Linked DNA regions of Homo sapiens. The gene in region 1 interacts genetically with each later gene. Each region holds a gene or a part of one and is shown in the gene's direction. Other genes may lie near its edges. The genes, in order: TRPC6, DOLPP1 and SAP30L.

Evidence for each region.
Region 2: changes in TRPC6 (region 1) and DOLPP1 together harm fitness less than expected from each alone (positive genetic interaction), as found in Homo sapiens cells (one large-scale study listed by BioGRID).
Region 3: changes in TRPC6 (region 1) and SAP30L together harm fitness less than expected from each alone (positive genetic interaction), as found in Homo sapiens cells (one large-scale study listed by BioGRID).

Annotation. Positions count from the first base shown.
Region 1 is NC_000011.10:101,573,891-101,577,538, reverse strand, and holds part of TRPC6 (short transient receptor potential channel 6), read left to right. Parts: intron 1-3,648. UniProt on the Homo sapiens protein: Forms a receptor-activated non-selective calcium permeant cation channel. Probably is operated by a phosphatidylinositol second messenger system activated by receptor tyrosine kinases or G-protein coupled receptors.
Region 2 is NC_000009.12:129,084,111-129,087,672, forward strand, and holds part of DOLPP1 (dolichyldiphosphatase 1), read left to right. Parts: intron 1-557; coding exon 558-658; intron 659-912; coding exon 913-997; intron 998-1,096; coding exon 1,097-1,196; intron 1,197-1,407; coding exon 1,408-1,506; intron 1,507-2,028; coding exon 2,029-2,157; intron 2,158-2,598; coding exon 2,599-2,688; intron 2,689-3,562. UniProt on the Homo sapiens protein: Required for efficient N-glycosylation. Necessary for maintaining optimal levels of dolichol-linked oligosaccharides. Hydrolyzes dolichyl pyrophosphate at a very high rate and dolichyl monophosphate at a much lower rate. Does not act on phosphatidate.
Region 3 is NC_000005.10:154,444,473-154,448,220, forward strand, and holds the start of SAP30L (histone deacetylase complex subunit SAP30L), read left to right. Parts: upstream 1-1,524; 5' UTR 1,525-2,132; coding exon 2,133-2,333; intron 2,334-3,748.

The DNA of each region.
Region 1 (3,648 bases):
TCTATTTTCCAAACTTTATTTCTTTTTAAAATTCTCCTTCTTTCCTAGATGATTGACATTAGATATGTCTACTCCTTTAAGCAAAGATACCACCACTGACCTACAGAAGTGTGGCTTTACTCTCTGACCCCAAAGGGGCAGTCACATCAGAACATGACAGTCCAGCAGCAGTACGAGGTATTTCCAAATAAAATTAAAGGGCTGATTTTCTTAACAAGACATATTTATTGAATGGTAAGTGAAATCAATAAAAGAGAACATGTGCGACACAATGATTTCTTATACATATGTAGTGGTCTAGAACGCAGAAAGAATCCTATAATCTAGTATACCCTTTGAAATGGCATCTATAACCATAAAGCCAAGACCTAGACTTTGGTGAAAGATTGCAGTGTGGAAGCTTGCTCTTCCAGGGGAAAAGCACGTGTAAAAACCACCTTCAAATCTGGCTCCCCTTCTATTAGGAGTAATCGTCTCCCCCAACCACTTGGATTAATGGTGGGTCTCATAGCTGATGACTTTGAAGCTCTGTATTCTGCATGGAAATGACCTGTTTTGTGTTGAAACCTCCCCTGGCTTGAAGTAATCAACTCTACTGGTAACATATTATTATCGTGAAGCATTTTTAGGGTGCCAGCATTGTAGGTTGTGGAATGATTGCCAGATGTGCTTAAAAGTCCACATTTATTCTGTAACAAAATGTTTGCCTCCAGGAAGACATTGCATAATTTTTTTTCTCTAGACAGTTTATGCTCCTTGAGTTGTAAGAAGTAACTTCATAAGGCAATTCATCTTAAAGAGGGTAAAAGTCATAAAAGGAAAACATTTTCTTGAGTCCATTCTTATTTTTCTCCCTCTTTCATAAAAAATGCCAAATATAATTGGTTCCAGTTGGATAAAATTACCATGTGTGTGATTGCTCTTTGTTTAGGAATCTTCTGATGGCTTTCAATACATGCAGAAGTGTTCATCCATATGCCAAGTTTCAATTAAACTTTGGCATCTAAAATTTGGTATGCTGCTCAAGAGGCTTTAAGCCATTGGAACTGACTGAATCACAGTTCTTATAGAATCTCTGTTTAGAGCAGAATACAGAAATGAGTGTTACACATACTCAAACAACCTATATGATTGCAGCATAACTGTTCTCCACCTAATTCAGCTCTCAGCCATGACAAAGAGGAGAAATGATGTTAACTAGAATTACATACAGTTTAATGTAAGTTGCTGTTTCTGTGGAGGACTAATCCAAAATATTTATATATATTTGGGGCAACTAACATTTTTTGAATACCTATTCTGTAGCAGGTTCTTTTCTAGTTGTCATACAAATGTAATTTGATCTTCAGAGCATCTACTCAGCTATTTTTAGCATCCGTTTTATAAAGAACAATGCTGAAATTTAGAAATGTTAAACAATGTGCAGTAAGTTACACAGCCAGTAGGTTGTTGTCAAGTGGGCAAAACCCAATATATTTGGGGCTGGAACACGTGGACCATGGGGCTGGCAGATTCTCTCAGTATCCCATATCTCAGTCCTCTATTCTCTCAGTATTCAGCCAGGCACAGCTGGATACAGGTGGATTATGCTCTTCAAAAGCGCACTCACCCCCATTCCTTCTCTTCTCCCTTTTCATAGGAATTTGGAAAGCCACACGTTGGCTCTGATCTACTGAACCAACATTCCTTGTGCTGTGCTCATTATATCTAAGTTATATCCTGGGTACGGATAGAAGACTGGAAGAAAAGGGCATAAATAGCAGTAATAAGTATGTTTAACCCCCACTTTCTCTTTCTGTTGAAATCTTAGCCATCTTTGGAGGTCAAGCTTTATATCTCACTTCTTTCATTAATTCATTAATCTATTTATTCATTCATCTCTGTTGATTTTATATGATTATGTCCAGCAAGAATAGAAATAATAGCTAGATTTATTAGCGACTTCTGTGTGCTAGGCCCTTCTCCAAGTGCTTTGTAGGTATTAACTCATTTAATCCGTATCACAAACCTATGAGATATGCATTTTTATAATCCTCACTTTACTGATAAGAAAAAAGAATGACAGTAAAAAGAAGGTAGGTGACTTGCCAAATGCTACACAGCTAGCAGTTGGCACAAATGGGAAGAAAGAAAGGGAAGAGCAAAGGATTTTGTTTTATCTCTTATTTCAATAAAGAGTGAAACTAGGTTTTGAAAAATTGCCAGTCTTTGTCACCAAAGGAAGACTATGAATGTTAACAAAATTGTGTCGATTGCTAATGTTACCAAAGATCCACAAACTGATCATGACTAAAGATTGCAAAAGGCAAGGCTTTCTTTTACTTTTCATTGCCATCATGTGGATAAAACTGCTTCTATGCTATAATGCAGGTTGTTTTAGAGACATTGACTCACATGACAGTGTGAAACTGGGGATTTAACCACAAGATTTGCATAATTTTTAAAGCATTTACATGGTATTCGTCTAAAAATATAAGTTGCCAGGAATCAATTACAGTGTGGATAGTCATGTTAAGATTGACTGCCTATTCAAAGCAGAGTTCATGTTTCCATTGCACCAGCTTTGGTTTGTGATACAAAAAGCATTTTGTCCTGACTTGTAGTAGCACAAAACCTTCACAAAAAAAAGAAAAAACAAAAAAACTAGGAAGAGTTCTTTTCATGGGAATCGCTAATAAAATTATCTTGAGAGTTAGGAGTCAAAATAAGAATTAGAAATGGCAATTTCTAAAGGTAACTTAAAAATTCTTTTAGGGAGCTAAACTGTTACAGATAAAAATCATTTTTGTTATTACTGAGTTAGCCTTCTTGAAACAGAATTTTGTATAGAGTAGATTGAAGGGTGGCAGAAGCAGCTATAAAAAGCTGATCCTGGGCAGTAAGAAAATCCCCACACTTAACCTAGGGGAGGGATTTCTGCAGGAACCCTTTTCTTGGAGGGGCATTCAGGGCCAGACACTGTATTCCATCTGGAAAGATTCTTAATTTATTTCAACAAACATTTGTTTAAGTTCCTTTGGTATGTTAGGCACCATTTTAGGGTAACCAATGAATACCATATAGCATGAAGTCTAAGCTTCTATCAATTGTAACCTGCTCTGACATTTTATGTATCTTTAAGAAATAAGCAAAAAGAAGTGTTATCAGTTAAATTATATCTTAGATTTTTATTTTATACCTCTTAAAACAGTTCTTTATACTCAATTAGATATAGATTTGGATCATATATAACTCTTATGCACATAATTAAAAAATAAACAAATTTGTTATGGTATTCCTAAGTTCCTTCACATTTGGGGATGGAGTCTTCAGAATCACTTTTCAACTCAGAAGCTTCAGTGCCCATATTTTTCCACAGGATTGTGCTCTGTGCCAAAAGGACATTGGTGATGAAGGATTTCTTTAAAACAATCTAAAGAATCCATAATAGACCAAAAGCTTTTGGTGCTAGACAATTAAACTGAGTTTGCAATTACATAGAGGTAGACTGTTTTGAGTAACAGTTCCAGAATGTTGCTAAACAAATCTGATTCAACACTGTTCCTTACGTACTCTCCACCCTTCTCAACACACACACACATACACACACACACACACACACACACACACACACACACGTATTTGTTTCTTAGGCTTGAAAGGAGCTTC
Region 2 (3,562 bases), on another chromosome or scaffold:
GTGGACCCAAGTCTGTGTGGTGTCCAGAGAACGTCGGATTTCCCTGGAGGCCCAGGGCTCAGCCAGGGCAGCCCCAGCACAACAGTGTGTGGCTCTCATGTGCCTGCCGGGCTGCCTCCCAGGTCCCAGGCTCCACCTCTGGAGTCACCAGGCCGGGTTCACCTTCCTGCTTTGGCAGGAGGGATTGGTCTAGTGTCTGGAACAGGTCAGAGACTTGGACTTTAGTCCTGGTCCCACCTCCTTCTGGCTGTGTGACCTTGGGCGAGTCACATAGTTGCTCTGGAATTCAGTTTCTTCATCTATAGAATGGGAACAGTGAAGGCACCTGCTTTAAACGCATGCTGTGTGCACTTTAGTGCTAAGTAGTAGACAGCATCACGTATGGCTGTGACTGAGTTGGCACAATCGGCCGGTAAACAGGTGTCCCTGGCTGCCTGGCCTCCATTCTCCAGGCCCTGCCGGGACCTCCTTTCTGGATCAGGCCTTACTTGTAGGGGGCTGGTCCCTCTTCTGATGCCTGTGCCCTGTCCTCCTGATTCTGTTCTCTGTCTTGCCAGGTGATCTCTCTGGCCACCTCCTTGCCTACCTGAGCCTCAGCCCTGTATTTGTCATCGTCGGTTTCGTGACCCTCATCATATTTAAGCGGGAGCTGCACACGGTGAGTCTGTCTTGCCCACACCCTCCCCACCCCACCCCCAGTGCCCCCACCCTGCTTTGGGAAGCCCGTCCGCCCCTCAGTCCAGGGTTCTCATCCCTGCGTCCACCTGTCTTGAGGTGCGTGGAGCCTCCTGGCTGGTTCTAGGTTACTCACCTGTTGGGCTGGGAGGTTCAGTCAGAGGCCATGGTCTTTGGGACTAGGTAGCAGCCAACAGGTGCACAGAGGCCCAGCTGACCATGCGTCTTCCCCAGCAGATCTCCTTCCTTGGGGGCCTGGCACTGAACGAGGGGGTCAACTGGCTGATCAAAAACGTCATCCAGGAGCCACGGCCCTGTGGAGGTAGGGCCTCAGCTGCGAGGGCCTGAGGTTCCCCCAGGTTGGGGCGTTACTGGGAGGTCTGCATCCCCCCGTGATGCCCTGGTCTCCTCTCTCTCCCAGGCCCCCACACAGCAGTGGGCACCAAGTACGGGATGCCCTCCAGCCATTCCCAGTTTATGTGGTTCTTCTCCGTCTATTCCTTCCTTTTCCTGTATTTAAGGTGAGTTTCCACCCCGGTCAGGATGGCCCTGAACTTGCTCAGGCCGAGTTCTGCTAGGGACTCACTGCTAGCCCTTTGGATGCCCCTGGGGTGGGAGGGGCTGCAGCGGAGGCAGAAGGTACCCAGGGAGCATTTGGATGGGGCCAGGGACTGTTTGGGAGGCCTGGGCTGGGCTGTGGGCTGAGGTCATCTGGTGGGCCTGTTTTCGCAGAATGCACCAAACAAACAACGCCAGGTTCCTGGACTTGCTGTGGAGGCACGTGCTCTCCCTGGGACTCCTCGCTGTGGCCTTCCTAGTCTCCTACAGCAGGTATGGAGGAGGGAGAGCCCCTGCCTGCACCCTGCCCATGTGGGGTCCTGCTGGTTCCTGGTCCCTGTCGGACCCCACCATGGACCCTAGTCCCAGAACCTGTAGTGCAGGACTGGAAAAGGGGTCCCAGACCTCTAGTTTTAAAAGGACAGGGCTCCAGCTGCCTCTTCTAGCCCAGTCCGCACTGAGCCCAAGATTCTGGGACCAACTCCACGTATCAGCCATCTCTTCCCAGCGTTCCGGAGGAGCCCACTGTAGACAAATTCAGAGGTCAAGGGCTAGATGGGAGGCAGGCAGATCCCAGCTGGCCCTTCACTGCTACAGATGGGAGAGCTGTGTTTGGGGTCCAGCGCCCTCCCACTTGGAAATGGATCTGAGGCTGTGCCCCGTGGAGTCAGTGTCCTGTCTGTGTCTCCACATGTGTGGGCACAGGTCCCTGGGAAGCTGGCACATGGGCAGTGGGGATTGTGCGGGCCTGTGTCTGACTGGCTCTCACATACTTCGCTTCTGGCCTTGGCCCAGGGTCTACCTGCTGTACCACACCTGGAGCCAGGTGCTCTATGGAGGCATCGCTGGAGGCCTCATGGCCATCGCCTGGTTCATCTTCACCCAGGAGGTCCTCACCCCGCTGTTCCCCAGGATAGCAGCCTGGTAACTGCCTCCTGCCTTCCTGGGCACTGTGGGCCCTGTCCCCTCCTGTGGGTGGGGCCATCAGTGGGCGGACCTAGGAGTCTTGACCCCAGCCCCTGTCTCCCTGGGAAGGCCCCAGTGCCCCAGGGTTTGTGGCAGAGACACAGGGGGTTTCCTCAGGCCCGGAAGCCAGAGTGCCATCCTCTGTCCTCGCCTAGGTTCTCAGGGACTTAGAAGCCTGAGTCCTGCTGGGCTGTGTGTGCCGTGGGACAGTGCCCCTGCCTGAGGTGACACAGGTGACATAGCTGGGTCTCTCAGTGGCTCTGGGGTCTCAGGCCAGGCAAAGACTCTAGGCAGTCGGGGCGGGTGCCGTGCCAGCCCCGGGCAATGGTGGGGATGGCTGGCATGGTAACAGACTCATGCCCTGATGTGCCCCTGGCTCTCTGATGTCTGTCTCTCCAGGCCTGTCTCCGAGTTCTTCCTAATCCGAGACACAAGCCTCATTCCCAACGTACTCTGGTTTGAGTACACGGTAACCCGGGCAGAAGCCAGGTGAGTTCAGGGGACAGCAGTGCTCACTGGGCCAGCCACAGGCAGCCTCTGCCTCCATGTTTGGAGGGCTCTCCGGGAGCCTCGCGCCTGCCTAAGCACTTCTCTTGCATTAACTCATTGAATCCTGCTGTGACCCCCATTTTGCAGATGATGAAACTGAAGCTTGGAGAAGAGAAGTCACTTGCTCGAGATCTTGCAGATAGTGGGTGGGGGAGCAGGGTGGTGAACCCAGGCTGTCTGGCCCAGGGCCCATGCTTTTAACCTCTGCAGCCCAGAACCAGAGAGCTGGGCAGCTGAGGTTCTCAGGGCTCCTGTGTGTGGACATCCCTAGGGATTAGTCCAGATGCTTTCTTAGGCCTGGGTAAACTGAGGCACATTGAGTTAGGAGGCCAGCCTGTAGTTGTGCAGCAAGTCAGGACAGAGCTGAGCTTTGGAGACTCCTGACTCATGCTGTTTCATTCACCCCAAATCCTGGGTGAGGTTCTTAGGGGAGTGGGAAGGCTGGCTTTTCTTTTTTTTCTTTTTTTTTTTTTTTGAGACGGAGTCTCGCTCTGTCGCCCAGGCTGGAGTGCAGTGGCGCGATCTCGGCTCACTGCAACCTCTGCCTCCCTTGTTCACACCATTCTCCTGCCTCAGCCTCCCGAGTAGCTGGGACTACAGGCGCCCGCCACCACGCCCGGCTAATTTTTTGTATTTTTTAGTAGAGACGGGGTTTCACCGTGTTAGCCAGGATGGTCTCAATCTCCTGACTTTGTGATCCACCCGCCTCGGCCTTCCAAAGTGCTGGGATTACAGGTGTGAGCCACCTCGCCCGGCCGAAGGCCGGCCCTTCTCTGGGTTCAGAGGGGAGCTGAGGCTCCACAGGAAGCCTGGG
Region 3 (3,748 bases), on another chromosome or scaffold:
ACATTGATGTTGAAACTACCTCAAATGCTAACTGCACAATCTCTTTCTGAAGATTTTAGGTAGTTTACTTAACCACTTCCCTTTTGGAACTCTGAGGTTCTATTTTATTTTTCCTATTATAAATAATTCCATAATGAACATCACTGTACTTCATATTATCTCTGATAGGCCTATTTCCGACGATGGCTGTCCCACGTGTGAAATTACCAGTTCAGATGCTACAAATGCATTTATGGCCACTGAGCAAAACTTAAGATCACCAGCCACCTGCTTCTAAACATGGAAACTGGTAGCTTTCCCTTTTACAACAGGACACAAACCCGAAGCTCCTTCTATGCCCTCTAGTACTAACACTTGCTTACCTATCACCTAACACAGCCTCCCCTCTTCCCTGCCCATAAAACGCTGCCCAGCCCTACATAATTACACGACCCTGGGCTGGTCCCATCGCCTTTCGGACCTCATCAGTCCCCATGCTGCGCAGTTGGAGAGTGGCATGACTGAAGTGCTGGACCAGAGCATATCCTACGGCCCCTCCTGGAGGGGAGGTGGTGCCCTGGGCGCCGAAACCAAGCGCAGGGTCTTGGCAGGGCGCAGTCGCTTCGCCGGTAGACCCGGGGACTCAAAGCAATAGAACTACAGCTTGGAGCTCCAGGGAGAGCCCAAGACACCGCAGCCCTTCCCCATCTAGATTCCGAGATTGGCCCCTGGGCCCCACTCCCAGCCTTCACTTCATCTCCCCTGAAGCCCTTTCTCTTGCCCGCGGCTCACCTAGTCCACCCTCCAGACCTCATTCGGACTTCCCATTCTTCCCAGTGGAGGGGTCGCCCAAACCCCTCGGGGTCTCCTTTCCCCCTCTCCTTTTCTTTCCGCGCCGTCCAAGCCAGTCCCACTCTCCACACTCTGGAAGGTATCGGCTACCCCCAATATTGCGACTGCCTTGCAAGATCCCCCCATCACCTCCTCCGCATGTCTTTCCACGTATCTGTATGGGGTTGTCCCTCTGTCTTTCCCGCCATGACTGGCTTTCCGTCCTATTTCACCCACCCTTCCTCCCACGGATCCGCGAGTCCTCTGGCCCTGGCCCTTTCATTTTATTAGTCCGCCCCTCTCCTGATAGCACCTCTATCCTCTTTAGGTCCCCTCATATGCCCCTCCTCCAAGTCTGTCCCTCAGCGTCCCCGTCCGCGTCTCTACTGTCTGTCCCCGAATGTGTTCCTCTGTTCCTGGAGTCTGGCCCTCGGTCCAGCCAGGCCCCTGCTCACCATCCCTCCCCCGGGCCGGAGAGTCTGCAGCCCGGTTCCCGGTTCTCGCTGGGGTAACTCTTTCCTCTTCCACTTTCTCTACTTTGAACCCATCCCAGCAGAGTCCAGGAAGTAGCCTGGCGCCGGAGACTGGCGGCGGCGACGCCCAATGGGACGCGCCAGCGGCGGCGGCAGCCCCGCCCAGAGAGCAAATGAGACCAATGGTCGCGTGAAGGCGGGACTTCCGCTGTCCCGCGAAGGGCGGGGGGAGCGAACTGTTGTGGTGCGGAGCGTTCGGCGGGCGGCGGCCGGGCGGCCCAGGGGCTGCCGCGGGACTCGGGGCGCAGCCGAGTGGCTGCAGGGGTGGAGTGGGCCGGACGAGCCGCGGGGCCCGGGTGCCGCGGGTTCGAGGCCGGGCCCCGCGCGAGGAGGCCGCGCCACCCCGGGGGAGCTGCCCGGCAGCGAGTTTGCCCCGCTGCCGAAAGAAGGCGGGAGCCGGCAGGGGCCTTCGAAACCCCCTGGCAACCCAGGCCCGGAGTCCTTGGGGAGCGGCTGTTTCCTGGGACGCCCTCCCGGACACCCCCGCTGCAGGGTTACGGTTCTGGGCCCCCGGCAGAAGGCTCCTCCGGGTGACCCCCGGCGGGGCCCTGCGAGCCGCGGGAGCCGACCCCGGGGCCTCGAGCCGGGAGGAAGGGGGCTTCCGGAGGCGGAGGGCCGGGGGCCGAGGGAGCCGGGCCTCTCGGACGCGGGGCAGGGCAGCGCCCGGGCTGGAGACGGACTCTGGGACCCTCGGCTGCGGGGGTCTCAGCGACCTGCCCCGCGGCAAGCGCGGCCGCGGAGTGGCCTACCGGGGACCCTCCCCCAGAGGGACCGGCCCGGGGCGGGGAGATGAACGGCTTCAGCACGGAGGAGGACAGCCGCGAAGGGCCCCCCGCCGCCCCAGCTGCCGCCGCCCCGGGCTACGGCCAGAGCTGCTGCCTCATCGAGGACGGCGAGCGCTGCGTCCGGCCCGCGGGCAACGCCTCCTTCAGCAAGAGGGTCCAGAAGAGCATCTCGCAGAAGAAACTCAAGCTGGACATCGACAAGAGCGTGAGTCCGCCCCCGCTCGCGTCTGGGCCCCGGCGCCCCCAGCTCTCCGTCCGCTGCCCTGGGCTCCAGTCGGGACTCCCCGGGCACTCCCCGCCGTGGGCCTCGCCGCCCCGGCTCTGCAGAACTGAGTTGGACTCCGCATTTCAAAGGCCGCTCCAGCGCTGACATGCTCTGACTGTGATTCTACCCAGATCCGGGAGGATGGGGGCGGGGGCTTCAGGACTCCTGCTGCCTGGAAAGATTGGACAGCAGTTTCCAACTTGTTTTATTGGTTTAGACTTTAGAGCAGGGAGAGGTGGGTTAGTTTTGTTGGCCCTTGAAGGAGCAAGAATCGGAGCGGGGAGTGATGAAGATACCCGGCTCTTTTCCAACTTCTCTCTCCTTCTAGGAACCCTGTTATTCCTTCAGACAGAGAAAGGTGGCAGTTACTTCCCTGGCTCCCGCATCCTCGGTATCAGCAGAGGGTCACCGAGCTAGCTGCTTCGCAGGCAGCTGTGGGAATGGGTTTTTCTAGGATGTGGCAGAAATAAGGCCAAGGCCAGGTCTTGAGAAATGGCTCTTGCAGTCGATGTGACTGGAGGGGGGAAGAAAAGAAATCAATTTTCTTAGTGGTAGTTTCTTTTGAAATAAGGGGGTGGATATTTAAATTTAAATCGGATTGCCCTGCTCTTTGTGGCTTATTATAGGAAACTCCTCCCGTGTGACTTCACCACTTCTAGTTAACAATTCTGAAGCTGTGCCTATTGTCAACCAATTAAGAACTTTTTAGTTTGACATCTGTTGCTACAAGCCTTAAGTGATTGCTTCATGATTAGGAATTGGAAATGAGTTAAGGGGATATTTAATATTCAGGTAGACTAGCTAAGAGCTTAGGTGGTTAACATCCATTCTCTTCTAGAATCAGAATTTCTCCACAGTTGGAGGAAATCAGAGACTGCTTGTTAAACTGAAAGGGAGTGCACGTTTCCCCTCTGATTTTAGGGTTGAAACAGGCCCAGAGATAGGAAGTGAGGGTGTCAGGTACACACAGCACCTAAGAGGCTGGTTAATTTCTTAAAGATATTATCTAATTTACTTCCAAGCCCTATACATAAGTCTTCATTAAGTCTCTAATAAATAAAAAATCTCCCCTGTCCTTTTTCTTTTCTTTTTTTTTTCTTTTTCTTTTTTTTTTTTTTTTTTTTTTTTGAGACGGAGTCTCACTCTGTCACCCAGGCTGGAGTGCAGTGGCAAGATCTCGACTCACTGCAACCTCCGCCTCCCGGGTTGAAGCGATTCTCCTGCCTCAGCCTCCTGAATAGCTGGGATTACAGGCGTTTGCCGCCATGCCTGGCTGATTTTTGTATTTTTAATGGAGATAGGGTTTCGCCATGTTGGACAGGCTGGTCTTGAACTCCTGACCTCAAATGATCCAC